Regions from separate parts of the Homo sapiens genome. Here region 1 is linked to region 2. Evidence: fine-mapped expression QTL. A gene starts in region 2. The other region holds a variant in brackets. All regions are shown on one strand. Distances are between the middles of the regions. Region 1 has its middle 50 kb from the start of CCR4. Region 2 holds the start of TRIM71 (tripartite motif containing 71).

Region 1 (2,907 bases), 84 kb before region 2:
GCTGCCTGCAGGTGGAGCTGCCTGCCAGTCCCGCGCCATGCGCTCGCACTCCTCAGCTCTTGGGCGGTCGATGGGACTGGGCGCCGTGGAGCAGGGGGCGGCATTCGTCGGGGAAGCTCGGGCTGCACAGGAACCCATGGAGGCGGGGGAAGGCTCAGGCATGGCGGGCTGCAGTCCCGAGGCCTGCCCCGTGAGAAAGCAGCTAAGGCCCGGCGAGAAATTGAGCGCAGCGCCTGTGGGCCGGCACTGCTGGGGTACCCAGTACACCCTCCGCAGCCGCTGGCCCGGGTGCTAAGCCCCTCACTGCCCGGGGCGGGCAGGGCCGGCGGGCCGCTCCGAGTGCGGGGCCCGCCAAGCCCACGCCCACCCAGAACTCCAGCTGGCCCGCAAGCGCTGCTCGCAGCCCTGGTTCCTGCTCGCGCCTCTCCCTCCACACCTCCTTGCAAGCTGAGGGAGCCGGCTCTGGCCTTGGCCAGCCCAGAAAGGGGCTCCCACAGTGCAGCGGCGGGCCGAAGGGCTCCTCAAGTGCCGCCAAAGTGGGAACCCAGGCAGAGGAGGCGCCAAGAGCAAGCGAGGGCTCTGAGGACTGCCAGCACGCTGTCACCTCTCATTTTGACAGGTTAAGCATGTATTACAATCTCATGGATAATGACCATGAAACTAACGAGACATTCGTTTCTGTCTCCTTTAGGAAGCCAAGTTGGCTTTTCTGCCCTGATGGTGCTTGTTGTGTTGGTTATGTGATTGTGTTTTTGTCAAAATTCACAGAACCATGTTCTAAAATGTGTGAAATTTATTGTGTGTAAAGTATACCTAGACCAAAAAAATGCTAGTCTCTAAAAGTTGAATTGTCTGAATATTCCACCAGAGTATATGCTTCCAGTGTTTTATTCTAGTCCTCATTAATTAAATTTTAAAAATTTGGATTGTTGCTTGGGAGACATGAAAGTCTTTTTTTTTTTTTTTTTTTTTTTTTTTTTTCAGACGTTGTCTCACTGTCACCCAGGCTGGAGTCCAGTGGCGCCATCTAGGCTCACTGCAACCTCCGCCTTGCAGATTCAAGCAATTCTCCTGCCTCAGCCTCCTGAGTAGCTGGGATTACATGCATGTGCCAGCCACCACACCTAGGTAATTTTTTTGTATTTTTAGTAGAGACAGGGTTTCACCATGTTCGTCAAGCTGGTCTTGAACTCCTGACCTCAGGTGATCCACCCACCTGGGTCTCCCAAAGTGCTGGGATTACAGGTGTGAGCCACCACGCCGGGCCAGATTCCCGGCCTGAAATGCATTTTTAAAGTCTATTGCTATATACTTAGGGACAAAGATGGTTGTTAAAGGTAGAGAAAACAAAACATTCAACATGTCTTGAGGAAAAGGAAGTGTTGGTGGGGGTGAGGTGGGGGCAGTTGCTTGTCTGTCCTGGAAAGGCAATTTCTTACCGCTTCATACCCATTTTATACCCATTCCATTCTTTCTAGAAACACAGATTTCTGTCCTCATTGTTTTCATATTTGTCTCCTATTGTCATGTTTTATGAGCAAGTCATAAAGGGAGGAAGAGGGAAAACAAAGTTCTGAGGCTTTC[T/G]TAATCTACTTGCTCAACCTGCATTTTTAGTAACCATAAAGAAATTGGTTGGGCTCACTTTTACAGCTTCCTCTTCTAGCAAGAAGTCCCACCACATGCCATCCACCTAGCCACTTAATGCTCGTCGAACAAGTCAAATCTATAGCAAATATGTAGTCTTGTTTTGTACTTTTTTTCAAATGTTATGTAAAAGGTATACTGTAAAATCATACTAGAACTTCTTTCACCCAATGATTTTTAGATGTACCTACACACATGTAGCGTCCCCATTCACTTTAACTTGCACTGAATAAATATATCAAATGTACTCTTCTATCTCCCCACTGACAAGATACTTGGCATTACGTACTCCAGACAACCAGGCAGCGACTGTTTTAAGTCTTCTTATGCTGTTGTTTGTGCTAGAATTTCTCCACAGCATATTTTGGAGGTGAAATTACTGGATCCGTGTGTATGTGTACATCTTCACCTTTACTAGGTATTGACAAATTCCCCTGCAAACAGGTTGTACTCCTTTTCACTCCCACCAGCTGTGTAGGACAGTTCCCATTTCTCACCAACAGTTGCTATAATTAGACTTTCCTATTTCTATCCAAAGGATGAGTATAACATTGTATCTTATTGTTGCTTTGGTCTGTATTTCCCTGAGTTCTAGGGTAGTTGAGCTCGGTAAATAACTTAACCCCACCCTTTGCCTCGTTGTTTTTAATTGGGGTATGTTTTCCTTATTGTAGTTCTTTAAATATTCTGGATGGCAATCCTTTATTAGTTATACCTTTATATTCTCCCATTCTGAGGCTTATGCTTTCGCTTCTTTAATATTGTTGTTTTTCAAGTTTCAATTTTTGTAAGTTAAAAATTGATATATAGTAGTTGGACATATTTTGGGGGTCCATATGAGTTTTGAAACTTGTATAACATGTGATTATCAAATCAGTGTACTTCGGATATCCATCGCCTCAAATATTTATCTTTGTGCTAGGAACAATACAAATCTTTTATTTTGAAATTTACAATAAATTATTGACAATTTCCCTACTGTACTTCATTGAACTAATTTTTAAAACATAAAAAACACACAACAAGTGTATACATTTTTATCACATGTGCATTCCTGGTTGCCTGGCGTGCTGCTCTTGTGTCAGCCTCTCCCAGATCCAGGCTGATGACACTTCCTGCCATCAGGAATACTAGGATACTGCCTGTGGTCATGGGAGGTGAAGAGAGATCTAACAGTTCACTTAGATGCAGTGAAATACAGCCATCCCTCGGCACCACGGGAGATTGCTTTCAGGACCGCCCGCAGCTACCAGTGGAGCGCAT
Region 2 (2,907 bases):
GGGGTGCAGCCGTGGGCCCACGAACGGCGATTTCACGCTAGGAGAATTCAGGGGCCAGAACACGCATTTTAAACAATATAGGAAGCAGCCGCAGAGAGAGAAGGGCTTAAGACTGGGGGCCCTTGGCCCTCAAAGATCCACAGACGCTCCCACTCTTACCCAACATAAGGAGGCAAGGACTGCCATGCTGTCCCAACAACAAAAAAACCAGTCTTCCCCTCACAAGTGCGCACGTGGAAACCAGGTCTACGGAGGCACACAAACTCCACGCACTCACCCACACAACCATCTCTTCCGGGCTCACGCCCCATTTTAAAGGCAACAATCTATGAGTTTTCCAAACAAAAATCTGAAAATAAAGGAGCGCCTTCTCAGCACGTTGGGAGGCCTCTGGTGTGCCCACAAGAGCAGGAGCAGGCCACGTCTACACAAACACACACACCTATCTCCTCCCAACTCACGCCTAACTCAAGACGATTGCCGCGTTTTGCCACACAGAAATTAAAATCAGAAAAGGGAGGACCCCACGCTATGGGATTTTTCGGAGCCCCTCGCGACACGTACACAGAATCCACTTCCACATACTTCCCAGGTCATGATCTACTTTGGTAGCAAGGACTGCCACGTAGCCAAAGGAAATACAAACCAAATCCGGAGAGGGCCTCCTCCCCTCGCTGTGGGACCGGCCGGGAAACGCTGTTGAGCACACACGCAGTTATCCGATGGACACAAACACACGCCCCCACGCACTCACCTCGTCGTCGTGGTGCTGGCAGAAGCCGAGGCGCTCGGGAAACACTGAGAGGATGGAGAAGGGCGGGCCGGGAAAGGGCGGCCCGAGCCCGAGCTGCTGCGCCGCTGCTGCGGCACCGGGACCCGGCGGGCCGCGCTCGATGTAGTGGTCCTTGGTGAGGCGCACGCGCTGGTGCGCTCGGACGCAGTTGTCGCACAGGTGCTCCTGGCAGTCGAGGCAGCGCGAAGAAGCTGCGTTGCCCTCATCGCACGAGCTGCAGCCGTGAGGACGGCGGAGCAGCAGCGCCGACGGGGAAGCGGCAGGGCCGCCGGGTGCCGAGCGGGAAGGCGCGGGCGGCTGCGGCGCCTGCGGGAGTGGCGGCGCGGAGGCGGACGCGCGCGGGTGCGCGTGGTGAGCGTGGTGCCGGTGGTTGCTGTGGCCGCCCGCTCCCGCCGGAGCGCCGGCGCGCCCGTTCTTGGGCGGCGGCTCGTCGGCAGTGGCCACCACCGCGTCGAGCAGGTTGCTAAGCAGGAAGGCGGACGAAGGCAGCGCGTCCATACCCGCCGCCTCGGCTAGCACTACTTTCTGGTCGCACACGGGGCAGCGCAGCTTGAGCGGCTCTCCCGCCGCGCCGCCGCCCGCCGCCGGCAGCCGGTGCGCCTCGAGGCAGGGGCGGCAGAAGGCGTGCAGGCAGGGCAGGACGTGTAGGCGGCGCGCCGCCGCCCCAGGGCCCCCGCCGCCGCCCCCCGACGACGTGGACGTCTGCGAGGAGGACGACGACGCGGACGAGTTGGAGGAGAGCGGCGCCGGCGAGCCGCACATCTCCTTGCACAGCAAGCAGATCTGGAAATCGGTCTCGGGGAACGAAGCCATTTGCAACCCAGCCCGGAGGAGGGAGGAGACCAGAGAGGAAGAGGAGGAGGAGGAGGAGAGAGCGGACGAGGTGGGTGGGGGAGTCACCGACTCACTCAGAAAAATGCATCGATTAGGCCTGCAATCCGGGAGCCGGCACCAGAGCAGCGCTGCCCGCTTGGCCTCGCCACGTCCGGCCCGAGCGCTGCCACCCCCGACACTGCAGGCATTAAATGCCACTATCCAGCGGCGACACAGATTCCTCCGGATAACTTGGGGGCCGCGTGCCTTCCGAAGAGGGAACGCCGGAACAAGCCCCGACAGGCGAGGGGCGAGCGGGGGCAGGGAGGTCGGAAGACTCCCTGGAGCAGCTGAGGCTTCCCTTCGCGATAGACGAAAGGAGTTCCCAAAAGGAGAGTTCGCTGTGCAGTCCCAGTCCCGGCGAGAGCAGAATTTGGTTCCACGAGTATTTGGTGCGTTGCTTTTCTTTAAACGGATTTAGTCTGTTCTTGGGAGGGGAAGGAGCCCCAAACTAGTAAAGGCGGGAGCGGTGCGTCGCCAAGCCGGTGTCTCCCCGCGCGACGTCGGCTGCCCCGCCGCATGACGCGGCGGCCAGGGGCTCCTGGGTGGCCCGGCGTGCTGCGCTTGGGGCTTGCGCACAGCCAGGCACGGCCTCCCCTGCAGGGCGGTGGGCCCCGCAGCAGCTGCAGCTCGTGGTGGCCCAGCCGCGGCCGCACGCGTGCAGTACGCACGCGCGTCCCACGCGCCTCGAGTCTTCCGCGCGCCTGCCCAGCCGGGCCGCGGCTGCCCGCGCTTAACACGCACGCGCGCCCCACGCGGCCCGGAGCCCTCGTGCCCCCGCCTCGCCTGGCCTGGGCGCCTCACGCACGCTCCTTCCCCTTCGGCTTAGCGCGCGGGGCCGCAGGTCCCCGCGGGCCGCCCTGAATTATTCATCGGCAGGAAGATATTAGATGTACCCGCTCCGCGCGGGCCGTCGTGCAATGCTATCCGAGCTCCGCGCGCGCCCTGCGCCCCTCCTCCTCCTCACGTCCGTCCTCTCTGAAACCTTGGCAGAGAAGGGGGATCACATTTCCTTTGTCATCGGGCCATTTCGCCCTCGCCTTGGTCCCCCCTCCGATCCCGAGCCTCGGGGATGGAGGCTCCTCTCGGGCGCGCTGGAATCAGTGGAACCGGCAACAGCCCCGCGCGGCGAGCTCGGGAGCCGCGTGGCCAACGCCGCCGGCTCGCGCCCGCGTCATCTTCTTTCTGAAAGGAGTCGCCGATCCGGACGCGGGTGGCCTCGGCCGCGCTGCGCCTACCGA

Evidence for each region. PIP is the estimated chance that this variant, and not a neighbour inherited with it, causes the effect.
Region 1: its variant is fine-mapped to the expression of TRIM71 in monocytes (TOPMed, PIP above 0.99). The same link has a PIP of 0.9 or more in blood mononuclear cells.

What each region holds. Positions count from the first base shown.
Region 1 is chr3:32,900,315-32,903,221 of GRCh38, reverse strand. No RefSeq gene overlaps it. Among named protein-coding and RNA genes, the nearest start is that of CCR4, 50 kb to the left of the region's middle. RefSeq lists silencers at 1-39, 63-218, 260-339. The variant T/G (reference allele first, on the strand shown) is at 1,585.
Region 2 is chr3:32,816,780-32,819,686 of GRCh38, reverse strand. TRIM71 (tripartite motif containing 71) reads right to left here and starts at 1,690. Exons shown (of 4, transcript NM_001039111.3): 1 at 755-1,690. The coding sequence starts at 1,606. RefSeq lists an enhancer at 649-1,230.